Linked DNA regions of Homo sapiens. The gene in region 3 interacts genetically with the main gene of each other region. Each region holds a gene or a part of one and is shown on either strand. Other genes may lie near its edges.

Region 1 (4,696 bases), on a different chromosome or scaffold from region 3:
CAGCCACCTTGGCCTCCCAAAGTGCTGGGATTACAGGCGTGAGCGACCGTGCCCGGCCAGATTGAGTGGTTTTAACAGCAGTATTTTGATAGGTGAAGATGGGAAGAGAAGGTATTCCAAACATTCTAGAGTTTAGAAAGCAGTCACAGTAAAAGCATGCTGGCAGGAAACCATGTGGCATTATCTATGTAAGTGGTGAACTCTAGGTTTTATAAGAGGTTTAGCCCACATTGTGAAGGCTCTTGGATGCCAAGTTCAGGAGTTTCTTTTTAACCTAGTAGGCAAATGGGAACCAATGAAGTTTTTTAAGCCAAGAGTAATAAGATAGAGCTGTGCTTTAGGAAATTGTACTTGTGGAACATTTGGAGTGAGAAGAAATAAAAAGTAGGGAACGAAGTAGATGACTATTTCAATATTCTTGCAAGAGATTAGGATCTAGACCAAGGCAATGGCTGTAAGCATGGAAATGAGGAGACAGAAGGAAACACAGGGAAATAGAATCTACAGAATTAAGAAGCTGTCTTGATTAGGGGTGGAGGTACTGGCAGAAAGGTACAGGAGAGATGAAGCAGAAGAGTTATGATGACAGTGGATGGAAGAATCATGATACCAAAACACCAGGAAATACAAAGCAAAACCAAGAATAGCTAAAAATAAGGAGGCAAATAAATGGACCATGTTTTTACTTCCCTATCTGTATTTTGATGAATATCACTTAAAATTATCCTTCTATTATGCCAAGAAAGGGTTTTGTACCTGGTTTAGCAATGGGGTGATGGCATCATCACAGCGATCTAAAATAAGGAGCAATGGAGGAACCTCTGTCCGACGGAATTCAAACAGTTCATATTCTTTAGTTATCACTTGCTGTGGGTGAGAGAGAAAGATGGTTTGTGCAACCATCTAGTTACATATAGAAATGATATAAATAGGAAATTAATAAACACTACATTTAACAATAGTTCTTTGCACCCACATAGATCTTCCATATGAAGGATTCAAAAGTCTCACAAAGTTTAGTAGCATACTATTTAAGAGGTTAGGATATGAAACCCTATTTTATAAGTGGTTTAACTGGACCAAAAAAAGTTAAATAGCTTGTGAATGTTTCTTGGGTTAAACCTAAGAATCTTAGCTCTAATTGTTGCTTTTTGTTTTAAATTACATATACCTACCTCTTTTCGCGGAAACCTAACATACAATCATCTCCTTGGTTGTAAATAAACTATTCCTTTAGTTTCTGAAATATGATAGAGAAATGAATGGCCTTTATGTTTTGGAACCAGGAATAGGTAATGCCATACCTTAACGCACTCTGCAAGTCTCTTTGCTGCCTCTGATGAGAGCTGATAACGAATCATGGGACACTTCTTCAGAGATAAAAGGAGAGCTGTAAGCCCTTGAGTTGTTCTAGATAGCTGGGCTGGATCCCAATTTCGACCCTTTTTGTTAAAAACATATATTCAGAGAAAATATTTGAATTTTCTCTTACAAGTCTAATTATTTGCTGAATTAACTCTCGACTGATAAATTAAACCTTTCCTTCCATACCTGGCAGCAACCCAAAATATTGAGGGAAAACAAATGTGGGTTCACAGCAATGTAATCACCATAAAATTCCTGCAAATAAAGCACCAAGAATAGTCATTCCATAAACTTCAATTGTATCAAGCAGTAATATTTTCATAAGTGATATAATATGATATAGCCAAACTTTGTGAAATACAGGTGTAAAGAGATACTAAATTGTTCAATTAATAATTGGGTAACAACAGTCAACGTGGGAGAATTAAAATAATTACAAAACAGTAGCAATAATAATAAATCTAACAAATAAAGGTTGTAAGGTTATACACATTATATTTCTGGAGACCTCTATGCATACTTATCAATTAGTAAAAATAAAATACTGCTAATAGGAGATACAATGTTCTACTCAGATAAAAAAGAACTTTGCTGTCCAATGTGTTGTCATGAGAGAGAATATAATTTAAAACAGGTATTCTTTTTATTCATTTATCACCTATCACATCCTTCTGAAAAATTCAAAACTAGTTTATTTGCTGCCTCTGAAAACAATATTCCTCATTTATGTGATAAACATATTCAAGTATTCATAATAAAACTTCTTTTGAGACAGACCTTTCCTTATTTTTTATTTTTAGACTCAAATATTTAAAAAGGGCCAACATACGAGATGTGTTACAGGACCAATATGTTTACCTGAACCTCAGCCACAACTTCCTGTTCATCAGCTTCAGCCAATGACTTCACGTCACTCTTGCTGATCACATTACTGAAATCTGAAACACATGAGTTGGGGTTGACTCAAAGGAGATAATTTCTGCTGCAATATATGTAAAAGGGCCTGATAGTTAAAGCCTAATGAATAAGTGACCTTCAAATTGGAATGGGTAGCAAAAATATATTTAATCCACAAATTCATAATTTTATATATATATATATATATATTTTAAAAGGACTGGCCAGGCGCGGTGGCTCACACCTGTAATCCCAGCACTTTGGGAGGCTGAGGCAGGTGGATCATGAGGTCAGGAGATCGAGACCATCCTGGCTAACACGGTGAAACCCCGTCTCTACTAAAAATACAAAAAAAAATTAGCTGGGCGTGGTGGCGGACGCCTGTAGTCCCAGCTACTCGGGAGGCTGAGACAGGAGAATGGCATGAACCCAGGAGGCAGAGCTTGCAGTGAGCCCAGATCAGGCCACTGCACTCCAGCCTGGGCGATAGAGGAAGACTCCATCGGAGGAATTGGAGAATGAGAATACTAGGGAAGTAAGTCATTTTATTGAAAATAAGGAGAAAGAAGTAAACTTTCATGCTGTCTTTTATATATAAACTGTACTACCAGGTAACCAAATAGATGAGGGAAAATTTTTCTTTGTGAAAACATTCCAGCTCAACAATAACTAACAAATGTTAATGACAGAATTAGAATATCATCATTTTTTCTAACCCCCAATGAATCAATTGAATGGACCCAGGCATTGAGCATCAGCAGCTACTAATATCAAAAGAATAAGCAGCCAATGAAAGCACACAATACCACCTATAAAGTATTCTTGCCAAGAAGAAATCAAATCTTAACCTAATTAAGGCTCTGTATTCACCTATGAATTTACAGGAACTAGAAGACAGAGGAATATTTTAAACTTCAAGGAACATGTTAAACTACCCCCTGGGGATGCAATCAGCAAGATCCAGTCTGTGGAAAACTTAACAGTTTCTTCAATAAATAAATTGCATGGGGCAGCAGGGGCAGGGGTGGGAGGACCTATACAGAAGATTAAGAAACTTAACATATCAACCAACAGCAATGTGTGAACCTTACTTTGATCCTGATTTTAAAAAACTGTAAAAAAAAAAAAAAAAAAAGACAATTTTAAATTTGAACGCTGAATGGTTATTTGAAAATGGTACTAAGAGTTCAAGACCAGCCTGGGCAACATCACTTGAACCTGGGAAGTTGAGGTTACAGTGAGCCGAGATCATGCCACTGCACTCTGTCTGGGTGACAGAGGGAGACTGTGTCTCAAAAAAAAAAAAAAAAAAAAAAAAGAATAAATAATTATTTTTCACTTTTAATCTAGATGTAATAATGGAAATGTGTTTTTTAAAAAAATGAGTCCTTATCTTTTAGAGATGCCTACTGAAATACTTATGGATAAAATTATATAATGTCTTAGATTTGCTTTAAAATAATATTGCTGGAGAAGTAGGTGACAGTATAGCTAAAACAAGATTGGGTGAGGCTCAATAATTGTTGAAACCAGCTGATAGGTACATTGGAACTTATGATACTATTCTACTTTTGTATGTCTTTAAAAGTTCGGTGCGGTGGCTCACACCTGTAATCCCATCACTTTGGGAGGCCAAGGTGGGCAGATCACACATGGAATTACCATATGACTCAGCAGTTGCACTCCTGGGGGTTATTTACCCCAGAGAATGAAGACTTAATGTTCACATAAAAATCTGTACACAGATATTTATAGCAGCTTTATTTGTAATAGCCAAAACTGGAAATAACTCATATGTCCTTCAATGGTGTATAGTTAAACAAACTGTGGTACATTCATACCATGGAATACTACTCAGCAATAAAAAGAAATGAACTATTTTTAAATTAAGAAAACTTTTTTTTTTGCAGTTCCAGCTCAAAGGAGGAATGAACTATTAATACACACAACAGGTGAGGTGTGGTGGCTCATGCCTGTAATCCCAGTACTTCGGGAGGCTGAAGCGGGCGTATCACCCAAGGTCAGGAGTTTGAGACCAGTCTGGACAACCAACACGGTGAAACCCTGTCTCTACTAAAAAAAAATACAAAAATTAGCTGGGCGTGGTGGTGTGTACCTGTAATCCTAGCTACTCGGGAGGCTGAGGTGGGAGAATCGCTTGAACCCGGGAGGTGGAGGTTGCAGTGAGTTGAGATGGCGACACTGCACTCCAGCCTGGGTGACAAAGCAAGACTGCTTCTCGGACAAAAAAAAAAAACAAAAACAACACACACACACACACAGAACAGCCTGGATGACTCTCCAGAGAATTATGCTGAGTGAAAAAAGCCAGTCCCAAAAGATTATATGCTGTATGATTTCATTTATAGAACATTCTTCGAATGACAAAATATAAAATGGAGAAAATATTAGTGGTTACCAGGGTTAATGAGGG
Region 2 (5,239 bases), on a different chromosome or scaffold from region 3:
TTGCAGGACGAACCAACCCTTCACACTCCTCAGCACCTTTCCCTTAGCACACCACAGCCTCTAAAAAGCCTCCAAATTTTTGTTTCAGCAAAGTTGTGTTCAGTTCATGCTGGACCCAATTCCCTAGCAATAGTTTTCATTAAATAAAATCTAATTTACTGCTTTAACGAGTGTCCCACTTAAAAAATTTTTCTTGACAGTAAGCACATGAAATCGTTATTGAATTAATAAACTTAGGTTCTATATATGTGTAAACAGCTGAGCAGAGTTTCATTATTTTGAGCGTTCTTTTGGTATCTCCTCTCCCAACCTCCAAGAAGCTGAAATATGGCTTAAGTTATATTTTCCTTCAAAATCTCTAACTATGAAAGATGACAATTATGTCCAAGTTATCCACAGTACCTCCTGGATTGAAGTAAGTCAGCTTACTGTGGATATAGAAAGCTATCTAAAATGTCAGATCTCTAATTTCAATGCCCTGGTTTCTTTTTTTTTCTTTTTTTTTTTTTTAAGGAGACAGGGTCTCGCTGCACAGTGAGTGGCAAGATCAGGGTTAATTTGGCCTCAAGCAATATTCCCGCCTCAGCCTCCTGAGTAGCTGGCAATATAGGTGCTATGCCACCAAGCCCGGCTAATTTTTGTATTTTTAGTAGAGACGGGGTTTCACCATGTTGGCCAGGTTGGTCTCAACCTTCTGGGCTCAAGCTATCCTCCCGCTCTGCCTCACAAAGTGCTGGGATTGCAGGCCTGCGCCATGGCGTCTGGTTTGATTTCTCTTTTAAATATTTTTTTTGGCCAGGCGTGGTGGTTCATGCCTATAATCCCAGCAGTTTGGGAGGCCAAGGCGGGCAGATCACGAGGTCAGGAGATTGAGACCATCCTGGCCAACCCGGTGAAACCTCGTCTTTACTAAAAATACAAAAAATTAGCCAGGCGTGGTGGCGGACGCCTGTAGTCCCAGCTACTCGGAGGCTGAGGCAGGAGAATCGCTTGAACCCGGGAGGCGGAGATTGCAATGAGCCCAGACTGCACCGCTGCACTCCAGCCTGGGCGACACAGCAGACTTGTCTCAAAACAAAAAACAAAACCAACCAAAAAAACAAAAAACAAATGCAAAACAAAAAACAACAAAAATAAAACGAAATATTTTTTTCTCCCTATGGATTAAACACTTAAAAAATGTTTTACCACTTCTATTTCTGGGTCAACCACAATGTTCGGTTCCATCCAGAAAGACAAGTGGGTTTTGGAGAGGGTGTTTGGTTCCGCCTAGCATGCGAATTCCCATTCCCGCACAACGCTCTTCCTCCCTTCCTCCTTCCGGTAGCGTCCAGCAGGATTCCGCTGTTCCTCCAAAATCTTTGTCAGGAGAGCCATCCTGACGGTACCTTTAGGAAGCCCATAGATACCCGCCACAACCTGTGACTTTCAGGGTCAATTGCGTCTCAATTCGCACGTCTATCCAGAACCTGCGGGGACCACGTCCCCATCCTCCCGCCCGGCCTCCGCCTCCGAGGGTGTCACGTGCTAGACGCGGGCGTGAAGACAGTGTCGCCATGTTGATATCTGGCGTCGCCGTGTAGGGGAAGGGAGAGGGCGGCTGACTAGCTACCCGTAATTTCGGCTCCTGTGCGCAAGTGCGGAAGTGCGCTGGCCAGGAGCGTGATCGGTTTCCGGTCAGTGGTGTGGTACCGGGTACCCGGAGACGTGTATCGGACGGTGGGCCGCAGCCATGGCCGAGAGAAAACCTAACGGTGGCAGCGGCGGCGCCTCCACTTCCTCATCGGGCACTAACTTACTTTTCTCCTCCTCGGCCACGGAGTTCAGCTTCAATGTGCCCTTCATCCCAGTCACCCAGGCCTCCGCTTCTCCGGCCTCCCTGCTCTTACCGGGAGGTAATAAGGGGAGGGCGGCCCCGTGTGTGGTGGGAGGCGGGCGGGGGACGTGCAATGACAAAGGTCAGACGGGAGTTTTTCCTTCTGCCTCGAGCTACCCTCTGGATAGCTTGCCAGGATCATTACTGGCCAGGTTTGAGTGGGTCGGGGGCTTTGGGATCTTGGAGGTGGCAGGTGATGAGACTTGCTCTTCACGGAAACCCCCTGTTCCGAGTTGTCCAGAGTGCTGGACATTCATTCGTACCCTGGCATTCCGCAAATCTTTGCTGAATACCCGTTGTTGGTACGCCAGGTGCTGGCAGGAAATGCAAATAAATTAAACAGTGGCCCTCTCCTAGGGTACAGTAGTCTGTCTCCCACTAGGAGACTCCTAGGATACGGTAAGATACCTCCTAGGATGGACTGTGCCCCTCTCCTAGGATACGGTACACTGTCTCCTACTAGGAGATTGTTGTGATACAGTACAATATCTTCTAGGTTACAGTAAGATATCTTATAAGATGGACTGTGCCCCTCTTCTAGAAGCCTGTAATATTTGTGAAGTAGACATATACAATGCATTCCTTATCTTTTTTTTTTTTTTTTTTTTTTTGAGACGGAGTCTTGCTCTGTCGCCCAGGCTGGAATGCAGTGGCGCGATCTCGGCTCACTGCAGCCTCCACCTTCCAGGTTCAAGTGATTCTCCTGCCTCAGCCTCCCGAGTAGCTGGGACTACAGGCGTCTGCCACCATGCCTGGCTAATTTTTGTATTTGTAGTAGAGACAGGGTTCCACCATGTTGGCCAGGATGGTCTCAATCTCCTGACCTCAAGTGATCCGCCTGCCCTGGCCTCCCAAAGTGCTGGGATTACAGGTTTAACCCCCCACCCATTCCTCATCTTTCAAGACAATACATCACTTCTTCCAAGAAGCTGTTTCTTGTTCTCTTAGGCCCCCACTCCTATGTGCACTCCTAGCTCTTTTTTCATATTTGTATTATTGTCCAGGGAGATTGCTTTTTGATGATTATGTAGCATTGCCCAGAGCATAGTGTTTAAGAGCACAGACTGTCTGTATTCCAGTCCTTGCCCTGCCAGTAACTTGCTGTGTGACTGTAGGCATTTTACTTTACCTCTCTGTGCTTCAGTTTCTATGTATGTGTAGCCTCACAGAATTGTAATTAGAAATGCTTTAATTTTTGCAAAGCGCTAAGTATAGTGCGTGCCAGACAGTGTGATTTAATGTTTGTGAAATAAACACACCTGCCTCTCCATTTGGACTGCAGTCTTCTTCAGCAGCTATGACCTAATTGCCTTTTTATCTCCAGGATCTTATTTAGGGCCTAGTACATAGATCCTCTTTGGATGCTGAGTTTCCAGTGAATAATTTATTCTTGTTTGAAGGATGAAAGACAGTTTCATGGAGAAGCGAAGACAGGCACACTGGGAACAGCTGTACATGAAGGTTCCCCTGCCCATGTGTTATGTTTCTTCTTGATGCTTGTCACTACCTGACATGTACACATATTTGTTTATTCCACTGCACTAGGATGTAAGACCATGAAAGCAAAAACTTACTTTTATTCACGATTATATTCCCACTGCCTAGAATGGTGTGTGGTATTTAGTAGACCAATTATTCAGTAGATGTTTGTTGAATGAGTGAAAGGATGGGAGTCAAAATGATGTCTCATTTTGACCTGTGGTTGAAAGGTTAGGTGTTGCTGTCTTTGGTGAAGAACCAGCATGGTTGGAGCAGAATGCTGTGGGAGGATGCAGGAATAAATAGGGCTATACTTGGGGTTTTCTAATTATCCTCTGCACCATTAAAGTTGTTTGGTTATGTCCGTCTTCCTTGCTATGTAGTGTTTGGTTTGTGTGTGTCACTGTGAATTCATGCTAAACGTTTTCATTGTTAAGTCTGGTATAGCTACACCTGTCTTTAATGCTTTTGTTTCTTGGAGACAGTCTGTGTGTGTGTGTGTGTGTGTGTGTGTGTGTGTGTGTGTGTGTGAATATTAATAATTTTAGAACTAAAATTCATCTCTAAAAATCTCAGAAACCCATTCAGAGAATTTCCAGAGACAAAAGAAGAACCTGTCTCCCTGGAAGCAACAGTTAATCATATAAGTGGAAGAGAGACACAGGAAGCAATTTCATACATTCAGCAGACATGGAAGGCCTGGCACAGTGGCTCACGCCTGTAATCCCAGCACTTTGTGGGGCTGAGGCGGGTGGATCACCTGAGGTCAGGAGTTCAAGACCAACCTGGCCAACATGGTGAAACCCCATCTCAACTAAAAACACAAAAGTTAGTTGGATGTGGTGGTGGGCGCCTGTAATCCCAGCTACTCGGGAGGCTGAGGCATGAGAATCGCTTGAGGAGGAGGTTGCAGTGAGCTGAGGTCATGTCACTGCACACTCCACCCTGGGCGACAGAGTGAGACTCCATCTCAAAAACAAAAACCAGACATGGATTGAGCAGTTTCTATTTGCCAGGCACTGTTCCAGAACCTGGGAGACACAGAAGAGCAGACAGCCCTGCCCTCAATGACTGCACAGTATGTGTGTATACACACACACCCACCTGTGTAAGCAACTGTGATACAGGTTTAGAACAGTTAGAAAGAGGGATTGATAGATGGCTATGAATGCTACGGGTATCAGGCTGGCTGAGCCGGGGAATGGATGTCCCTTAGGCCTTCAGGGCCTCTTAGGGGAGGTGATGCTTGAGCTGAGTGTTGAAGGATACATAGAAGTGAGGGAAACTGGAGAGACAGGCATATGTGAAGTCTGAAGGTGTGAAAAAATCTTCAGATTTGGCAGGAGTTAGTGGTTGGTGGAATGGGACAGGGATGGAGCTCATCCCTCTCTCCTGTCCCTTCACCTTTGTCTCCTCTCCCCTGTGTCCTCTGCCCCCAGTAGATCACTTTGACTAGAGTGTGTGCAGTGGAGTGGCCTCAGTGATCTATGGGCCACATATGCCATACTCAGGAGGAGTTTGTAGTTCATCTTGTGGGGTGTTGGGGAGCCTTTGAAGGATTTTCAACAAGGCAGTGAAATTAGACGTGTGTTTCAGAAAGACTGGAGTTTTCTCTAGTCGCACTGGAATAAGGTTGACTGTAGCAAGAGGATTCAGTTGGGAGGCATAGTGAGAGGCTGGCAGTGGCTATGGCAGTCTAGCCTGAGTCAGCCACATTGGGTGTGAGGAGCAGGGAGCAGATGTGCGAGATGTGTGGACTATACAGTTGTAGAGACTCACAGAAGACCAGAGTGTCAGCTCTGTCTGTCAGAACAGAGGCCCATTTTTGTTTAGTTTTAGACCCAAGACTGAGCTCTGTACCTGGCACAGAATGCATCCTGAGTA
Region 3 (3,938 bases):
TACCATCTTTAGTCCATATTCTGGCAAACCCATCATAGGAACCAGTTGCTAGAAGTGTACCTTCACTCTGCCAGAGAAAAACATTTCTTTAATTATATAATCTAGATACGGTATTTAATTGTTGTTAAAGTATTTCATGTTTAAATCCCAGGTACAGAAGAGAATGAAGACATTCTCTGCTTCAAAACTTGTCAGTTTTGCCTACTTGTGAGTGCCACTAAAGGCCTATGAAACCCTTCCACTGTGTGACACTAATGTTGTATGGGGGCCTTATATCCAAAGTTCAACAACTGACAGTGATTGCTCTGGACCAGGATCTACATCACCCCACCTCATGCATGCCAAAAGTATTCTCACAGACTCACACAACTAAGAATGAAGGTAGAGTGGTGGACTGGGAAGAACATCAAATTCATAGTCTTACAATGATTTATTAGAAGTAAAAAAGAAAAACTTTAAAATATGATTAGAAGGTTTTATATGGCCATTCCTCTAAATCCTTTACTGTCTAAAACGAAGTGTGTGGGTATGATCCAAACAATATCATTGTTTCGAATGATCAGATTCTTAAATACTTGAATGTTCCTTTCTATTATTAATCCCTTCCCACTATGAAATATTTGCCAATAAAAAGATCAACAAGGAAAAGAGCCAGAAAAGAGCACAGGCTGACTTTATAGTTAATGAAGTAAGTACAACTGCCTACTTTACCAGGAGGAAAAGTCCATATAAATTTCTCTCAACTTATATTCCCTTGCTGTGCACCTTGCCTCGATGAATTGTGTAATAAAAGGACAGATCTAACCTACTCTATGCAAACACAGAAGTTACAGATTATAGTAAACAGACTATTGCTAGAATCAGTAAACATTACTGGAGAATGAAATCCTGCATTACTTGACATATTATTGATGGTTTTTGGTAAGGGCATTCAAAACAAGATCACCTATTTCACATCTCTCAAGCCATTTAGCAGTATGGCTAAGTGACAAACAAAAACAAATGCTGGTTCTGGGAACTGCAGACTCAATTCTGCTGGGATGTGGCCATCCCTTAGGGCTCTGTCTCAAGAAGAAGGGGAGCCATGTTGAAGTCAACAGTAAAAGCTTATTTCCACATCCTACACAATGTCAAGTTTCCTCTAAACTATCAGTCCCTAAATGTTTTAGTTCATGAACTGCTCAACTAGGAAAATACTGTAAAGATGAGAAATCTCACAGGCTCTCTTGCTTTAGCCATGGAAAAGAATCATTAATCGAGGATAATGTTTTCCAAGTTCACCGTGAATAACACATTTTTTAAAAGCCCACACTTTTCAAAACTATAAAATGCAGTTCAGAACTACCAAGCTCAACAAACCAATATTCATTAACCATCCTTTTCAGTGTAAACTATAAATTTCATTAACATGGCCAGTGGACCAGGTAGCGTAAGAAAGCTGTAAGATATCTGAACTAAAATATAATAAGGGCCCATATTAAGAAAATAATTCTGTCTTGATCTTACAAGTAAATAATACTACAATGTGCTAAACCCCTTTGGAATTTTTAGAATTGTCATATGGAGGGGAAGAGTAAATATGCTGCTGGCAATTTTGGAAGAAAATGCTAAAAATACCTAGCTATGATTTCTGAAAAAACATTTCACAGAAACTGAGAACTTTAGTGGGGATAATCATTTTAAAGATAGATCTCATTCCCGGGGAAAAGAATTGGAAGATCCTTTAGAAAGTCCACAAAGGGTTGTTAAACAGAAGAGAAAAGAACATTCATTTGCTGAGCAAAGAACAACTATCTTGATATTCTTTGCAATGCTGAAATAATCTAAGAGTTTTGGGGGAGGGGCAGGGGGTAGCGGAGCGAGGTAAGAGATGTATTTAAAACTATAATGGTGAGAATTTATCAACAACGAAGTCAAAGTTTTTTGTAAGTCACAGTAGTCAAGTTGTCCTGAAAGATGTTGAATCATACACAGAATCAGAGAATTACAAGATTCCTACAGTGGGAATAAAATTCAGACGTTGTCTAGACTAATGATCCCTAAAAGGAAATTGGTAATAAAGTTCTACCAGTTCACAGAATACAGAGAAAAACAAGAACATGTTTTTTGCTACACAGAATTCTTTTATCCCCTAAGGACTCGGTTGTTATAGATTTAGTATGTTGTTTGTTATTATGGTAAGAATTTTCACCTATTATCTCAAATATTTAGGTACCATTTTCACACTTCTACTTGACATTTAAAGAAAATGAAGTACAGAGTAAAAAGTAACAATTTAACCAAGGATATGCTGTGGGATACACTGAAGAGCTGGATGTTGAACCTTGGTCTGACTAAGGCAAGTCTGTGTCCCACAGTGGGGGAGAGGGCTGGCAGGGGACGACTCCCGGTTTGTTGTTACTAGTTAATAAAACCCCAAATTCTGAACAAATAGACAAACCCTGCCGTGAGTATGAGGCTCTGAGGGTTAGGTATACTAGTAATTATATCCATCATGGATATAGTGATACTCACATTCCAATCTAGAGATGTGACATCCTTGTTGCTTGGAACATCTTGCCCTCCTTCTCGTATACAATGTCTAAGTACTAACTGTGTAGAGCCACTGGTGCTGTTCTCACTAAGATTCCATATTCTTGCTGTTGAGTCTCCAGACCTATAAAAGTATGCAATATATTTTAGATCCTCATGACATTCTCACGTATCAGAACAAGGCAACATATTTACATCTGAATATTAATAAGGCAAATAAAAACGACTATCACGAATTTTCATTTCCAGTATTTTTCCCATTCTACACGTTGGGACCCCCAAGCATTCTCGAAATAGTAAGTTTAATTAAAAATTCTACAATTACTTCATGAAGGAATAAAAAATTTACAGAGACAAAATGGCCACAACTAAGCAACAACAGAAAACCTGAATAATGCATATGTTTATAAAATGTTCAATAAGATATTTTTAAGTCATTTTAGTATCACTTTGAGAAACATACCCTGATGCTAGGAGATCACTAACAGGGTTCCAGGCACAGATAAAAACTTCAGATTCATGGCCCCGCAACACAACAGCTTTATTAGGAGGGATTTCAACATCCCCATCCACTTCCATCATATCAGTATGATTATCTGCATCGTGAAACACAAGTAAGCATTTCCAGTTAGGCAGTATTACAACATGGTGGATGGGTGATTTCTTAACTAGCAAATACCTTCCTTTATCGCACACAGTGTAACATTTTTCAATTATATCCAGTTAAGCTGAACATGACTACACAGTCTTAGTCACACAGAAAATAAATTCTTATCTTTAATTAAGTATTGACCACATACTTTTTTTTTAGAGGGGTGGGGGTGGGAGTGGGATGGGAGACTTTAAATGATTAGACCTAAACATGGATAAAACGATAAAATGGTTTGAATTAAATATAATGTCTATCAGTACTATTCTGAGTTTCTGCCAGTAGGGGTTGCTGATATCATTCATATAACATGAGTTGCCTTTTATCTCGATGTCAGAGCTCTATGGTTATTTGTTGATAACTAGTATTACAAATTTTATTTAGAAATCAAATGTAGATGTAAAAATTCATTTAACAATGGGAAAAGGGTTTCTAGATATTTTAAAAAGAAAATAAAAGTAAATCTAGCTTTTTGGAGCTTTAGGAATAAAAATCTGAATTGAACTGTGTGATACAAGTTAGGGAAACAAGTTGGTGCAAGTTAACAGATGAAATTATTTCAGCATAGAAGATGGGGCATTTCTTCTGAGAAAAAATTTTTAAAAATTCTTGTCTCCTGGGACCTTCCTGGGGGGTGGAGGGTGGGAGGAAGAGGAGGATCAGAAAAAATAACTATTGGGCACTAGGCTTAGTACCTGGGTGATGAAATAGTCTGTACAACAAACCCCTGTGATATGAGTTCATCTATATAACAAAC
Region 4 (5,315 bases), on a different chromosome or scaffold from region 3:
ATTCATGTTTTAACCTTCTGTACACACCAAAAATACCAAGCAACCAAATGACTTTAGTTTCCCCTGGGCACTTACATAAGAGACCAAAAGGCCTTTATGAGAATCTTTCAGTATTGGTGATGTATGTACCACCATCAGGGATGTTGCAATAGATTACACATCACCAAGTATTATCCTAGTTGCAAGATCTCAAGGTCTCAATGTTTATAAAAGTAACCATAGGCAGTTATTAATTTTTAAAGTCTCTAACAGACTTTCCAATAAAACCATCAAAAAAATACAGAAAAATACAGTCAAATACTACATCCATTAACCAAGTCAGAAAGAATGAAAAGCACTGACCCAGTATGTCAAGAGTATTAACAGCTGTGGATCAGCATCCCTAAATTAGGATTTTCATGAAACCCTAGCATTGCTAGAAAACATTTAAAGCTAAGGCCAGGCGCGGTGGCTTACGTCTGTAATCCCAGCACTTTGGGAGGCCTAGGCGGGTGGATCACCAGGTCAGGAGTTCGAGACCAGCCTGGCCAACACAGTGAAACCCTGTCTCTACTAAAGACACAAAAATTAGCCAGGCGTGGTGGTGGATGCCTGTAATCCCAGCTACTGGGGAGGCTGAGGCAGGAGAATCACTTGAATCCAAGAGGCAGCGGTTGCAGTGAGCTGAGATTGCACCACTGCACTCCAGCCTGGGCGGGAGAGTGAGACTCCATTTCAAAAAAAAAAGAAAAAAACATTTAAAGCTAAGTTTCAAAGTTTGAGAAACAGAAGATTCACCTTTTCTTTTATCCCTGCATCAGCTGAAAAAGCCCTGCATATTTCTCTTCAGAACATACCAACGATGCCTCACTAATGCAACTATTTTTTTTAAAAAAAACCACATATCTGAACAGTATAGTCAAAATCAACTATGAATTATCAGTTCTACTTTCCTATTTTTAGCACAACTTTAGTTTATCAGAAACCTAAAACATGACTTTTCTTTAAAACAAGAAAATTTTCAAAACTACAAACCTTCATATATTCAGCCCTTCACCAGAAGCCCAGAAAAAAATTCATAATTTTTGAACAACAAGCAAATCATGCTTATTTTCCTCAAAATACTACTTAGGTTTTAAGAACCTTCTGATGTGCATCTGCCAAATGTGGCTGATTTCAGTCTCAGACAGGGAAATCTAAAAGGCTACCACAGGGTTACTGTTTTTGGTAAGGGGAAGTCGATGCCAGGAGGAACTTCTCTATTGATTACAGCAATGACCACCATTTATTAAGCACTTCTTAGCTCTCCTGGTGCAGTGCTAGGAGTTTGGCAAACATCCTATTTGTCCTCAGAAATAATCTTGCAGAGCAAACACCACCATCCCCAAAACCAGATGTGTAAAATGAGGCTCAGGTGAAGAATAACTTGCCCAAGATCACTGAATTAAATGTGGCAGAATCAAGTCTAATGAATGGCAAGGGTGAGAACTGGTCAGTTTCACAGAGAATTAGGCCTTCATCATACAAATGCCGCCTGCACAAAAACTAAATGAGAAACAGTGAACCCTTGCTGTAGGGAGAAAAAGCAATATTCCGAACTAAAAAAGTAGTTTCAAACAGAAGATCTAATGATAAACACATTTGTAAAGTCTGAGCAGGGAGGAAAAGGATTACTCAAATTACTCAAGTACAGCCCTATGGGGCTCCTTCACTTCTGTGTTCTTAAAATCTAATCTGGTTTAAGAGCGCATGGGCTCCGAGTAAAACTCTCCCAAATTCCTCCAGGCTTAACCACCCTCTACTCAAAAGAACCAGGAGCAGGAGTTAGGACAATGGGAAGTGACCGCCCTGCCCTGCCCTGCCGGTCCTCCCTCCGGGTCAGCTGTCAGATCCGCATGGGTGCGACTATAAGCCGGCACCGGAGCCCCGGGACTGGCTCGGCCAGGGTCCCCGCCTTTTCACTCCCAGTCCCGGCCCTGTCGGCCACCTCGTTTACCACCTCCAGAGGCACAAATAATTATACCGGAAGAATTTGTTTTAACAAGTAGAATTCTATATTCACCAACTGGCTTCGCTATCGGATATTACGGTAGGGTTCCAACAAGAGAAGGGCAAAAGAATATAGTTTAATTGTTCTAAACAATCTTTCTGAGAAGTTGGGGTGGCTGAGGCGGCCACGGGGATACAGCTCAGGCACCTGTGAGCTAAGCCCACTCTACAAACTAACCACCCCTACGTTTTGGGCAGAAGAGCGCCGCCTCGCCAACCCAGGTTATAAATGTACATATTTTTAAAGATGAGCTTTGACGCTGTGACACTTGTGGGGAGTCTCCCGACGGCTCCTCTACTTGATGGGGGTACAGGGAGTTCTGCGGCTCCCCAGCCCCGAGTTTCAAATACCGTGGCCTGGAAATTAACCGGGTGACTCGGTTTATTGCCTCCAGAAGGGTCCGCCTGCCGTGCTGGAGTAGCCGCCAGTCCCGCGCCCGCAGCCCCGGCAGGGCCCCCCACGCCCACCTTCCCACGAGGGGTGTCTCGTAGAGTCCGGCTTCAGGCGCTCCCTGGCCTGGCAGCACCCACCCCACCCCGCCCCACCCCACCCCCACGACTCGGGCTAGCAGCCTGGTTAATCATTCAACGCAAACAGTGTGGAATATTTTTTTTAAAAGGTCAAAGCGAAAGGTTTTCCCTAAGTTTGGCAGAAACCAGTTTTGGGGGAGCCGGAGACAGAAGTGGCAGAGGTTGGGGGTGGGGGGTGGGGAGCGGCTGCCGGCGGCTCTTTGGCTCACAAAACACCTGATCTCCCCATGCGGCACGGGAGGCCGGCGCAGTGCGAGGGTGGGGTGCGGGGGTGCGAGCGAGGAATCACGCGCGCCCCCCTCCCCGAAATGCCCGCGCGCCCCGGATGAGGAGGCCCGGCCCCAGATGCCCCTTGCCAAAGCCCGCATCGCCCCGGCGCCGGATCCCCCGGAAGTTGGGGTGCAGCGAGGAGGGGGAAGGTCCCCGGGCTCCAGGGCGAGGTGGGCACGGAATGGGTTGGGAGGTTCCAAAGCCCCGCAGCGGGCGGTGTCCCTCTCCTCTCCCTCTGGGCTGAGGTTGGGTGGCTGGGACGGCGGGAAGGTAAGGGAGGCTTAAATGCGGCAGGAGCCACCTAGGGACGGCTTCCTCCACCGGGGCGCGGGTACGAAGCCGGAACCGGCGAGGAACCGGGCGGGGGTAGCAGGGTGTCCGGAAGGTGGGGCCGGGAAGCAGGGAGGCGGAAGGGGACTGGTAGAGGGGCCTGGCGGTGAGAGGGCAGCGGGGAGGGAGCCGGCGGGGGTGCTCGGCGCCCGGGCCCTACCTTGTCCGGGAGCAGCTCCAGCTCGGCGGGGCGGGGGCAAGGGCGGGAGATCGCGGCCACATCCACGTCCCGGCCGCTCCGCGCGGCTCAGCCCGGCGACCGCCGCAGCTCACGCTCCATGCGCGGCGCCCCGGACGGGCGGCCCGGCGGTGTCGGCGGCAGGGACTGCTCCGGCTTGGCTCTGCTAGCCTCCGGCACTTGTTGCCGCTGCTGCCGCTGCCGCTGCGCCTCACTCCAGGCTCCGGTTCCAGGCGCAGCAGCCGCCGCGGGCGCCCGGCCCCGCCCCTCCCCTGCCCGCCCGCCAATGGGGCCCGGCCCCGCCCCTCACGTCACCGCCCGACGGCCCCGCCCCGCGCCCCAAGTTTTGGGAGGGTTCCGCTCTCCCCACCCGGTACCAGGACCCACCCGGGCCCGCGCTCCCTGCGGCTTCCAGGGACCCTCCAGCCCCCACGCACCCTCCTGCAAAGCCGAGGGTTAAGCTGGGGAAAGGGGGCCTCTAGGAAGGCGACCCCCCTGGAAATGCCTGGCAGCTCCAAAAACACTAATGAAACTCAGCTCCAGCCTCCGCCCCTCCAGTTGTGGGTGGCCCCTCTTGCGGTTCGTCTGAGGCTAGGGGACTAGGCGCATCGCCTAGCGAGACTCCAGTGGCCTTTTCTGTCCAGTTTGTAACCGGAACTAGACCGACCCCGGCCGCCCCCTCCAGTGCTGGGGCGGGTGAGGAATGGCCCCGCCGGGGAGGCGGGGGAGGGAGGCCTGGGCCACCCTGGGGTCTGACCTTTGCTCCACCTCTTAGGTGCTCACGACCCAGAGTGGTGCCCTGCTTGGTACTGCCACTGGATCCTCTGGCTTATGAAGCCGTCCAGGACAGGAAGGGTGGGGGGTGGTCCTTAGTTCTCTTCGTGGGGTCATGCAGAGTGGTTTCCTCGAGGTCCCACGCCCGTCTCAGGAAGCCAGAAACGCAAGATGCCGGGCGCTCGGCCCGAACCCGTGCCGCGGCCCAAGGGGCAAGGCGGATACCGAGGCAAGGCCTAAAGGGCCGGACTCTGACCGCACCCTCCGGACACTGCAGGGCTCCGCCGGCCAGAGGCGGCCTTGGCGCCAACCACACCTAGCAGCGGGGTCCCCGGGCCCACCGATGCGCCCTCCTAGCCCCGCGCTCCTTCGAGGGGTTCCAAGGTGACTCAGAGACGCAGCTGACACAATTCTGAGGCCCCCAGGTAAGCCTGGCGATACCGGATGGAGAAGTTACCTGGTCTTGAAAGGCCCAGTCCAGCCAGCGAGACCCGCGTGCGCTCCGCGGGGAGGCAAGCCTAACCAGGGGCTCACCTGGAAGCGTCCCCGCCCCCTGGTCCTTATCTCTGAATCGAAACCGAACCTGGACCCATCTAGATAATTGGACTGAGCAATTAAGGACGCTTCGCTCCTAACTGTTAGCATTTTTTCCTAAGGCTCTCGGAGGCGGAATCAGCTGGAAAGGAACATTGCTAAGTAGGAATTTCAGGCACCTGTGAACTGAGCCCACTCAATAATCGGCCCTTTCCCTTAACCAAACTCAGCAAAGGAAGAAAGACCAAGTTGCTGCGGATGCACAGAGCCACGTGGGTGCGGGTCCTCTAGAAACAGGAATTCAGAGTCAGTAGATATGGAAATGTTATGGTTTGCAGTCTTCGGACCATGCTGCTTTCATGCTGTTCACATGATTCTCCTCGGACTGCGAGGTAAAGTCCAAGAAACAAGTCGAATGTTTGTATTTTCATAGAAAAAACATCTGTAAGGGTGCACACCGACTGTTAACCACGGTTACGCGGGGAGGGGAAACAAGGGAGTTACATTTTTTTACTCCCTTGACTTTGGATTTTGTATTTTTCCAGTTGTATTTACTTTCATAATTTAGAAAGCTAATAAAACATGTTTAAAGAAACAGAAGCTAGAAATTCTCTAAGAACTCTAGGAAGTAGAGGCCGGGCGCGGTGGCTCACGCCTGTAATCCCAGCAC

The links. Genes that interact genetically often act in the same process or in processes that back each other up.
Region 1: changes in TBL1XR1 (region 3) and VPS45 together harm fitness less than expected from each alone (positive genetic interaction), as found in Homo sapiens cells (one large-scale study listed by BioGRID).
Region 2: changes in TBL1XR1 (region 3) and SEC23IP together harm fitness more than expected from each alone (negative genetic interaction), as found in Homo sapiens cells (one large-scale study listed by BioGRID).
Region 4: changes in TBL1XR1 (region 3) and B3GNT2 together harm fitness more than expected from each alone (negative genetic interaction), as found in Homo sapiens cells (one large-scale study listed by BioGRID).

What each region holds. Positions count from the first base shown.
Region 1 is NC_000001.11:150,073,840-150,078,535, reverse strand, and holds part of VPS45 (vacuolar protein sorting-associated protein 45), read right to left. Parts: intron 2,304-4,696; coding exon 2,224-2,303; intron 1,621-2,223; coding exon 1,552-1,620; intron 1,443-1,551; coding exon 1,305-1,442; intron 868-1,304; coding exon 757-867; intron 1-756. UniProt on the Homo sapiens protein: May play a role in vesicle-mediated protein trafficking from the Golgi stack through the trans-Golgi network.
Region 2 is NC_000010.11:119,891,051-119,896,289, forward strand, and holds the start of SEC23IP (SEC23-interacting protein), read left to right. Parts: upstream 1-1,679; 5' UTR 1,680-1,732; coding exon 1,733-1,895; intron 1,896-5,239. UniProt on the Homo sapiens protein: Plays a role in the organization of endoplasmic reticulum exit sites. Specifically binds to phosphatidylinositol 3-phosphate (PI(3)P), phosphatidylinositol 4-phosphate (PI(4)P) and phosphatidylinositol 5-phosphate (PI(5)P).
Region 3 is NC_000003.12:177,047,483-177,051,420, forward strand, and holds part of TBL1XR1 (F-box-like/WD repeat-containing protein TBL1XR1), read right to left. Parts: intron 3,129-3,938; coding exon 2,996-3,128; intron 2,657-2,995; coding exon 2,515-2,656; intron 442-2,514; exon of another isoform or gene 152-441; intron 68-151; coding exon 4-67; intron 1-3. UniProt on the Homo sapiens protein: F-box-like protein involved in the recruitment of the ubiquitin/19S proteasome complex to nuclear receptor-regulated transcription units. Plays an essential role in transcription activation mediated by nuclear receptors.
Region 4 is NC_000002.12:62,194,360-62,199,674, reverse strand, and holds the start of B3GNT2 (N-acetyllactosaminide beta-1,3-N-acetylglucosaminyltransferase 2), read right to left. Parts: upstream 3,561-5,315; 5' UTR 3,320-3,560; intron 1-3,319. UniProt on the Homo sapiens protein: Beta-1,3-N-acetylglucosaminyltransferase involved in the synthesis of poly-N-acetyllactosamine. Catalyzes the initiation and elongation of poly-N-acetyllactosamine chains. Shows a marked preference for Gal(beta1-4)Glc(NAc)-based acceptors.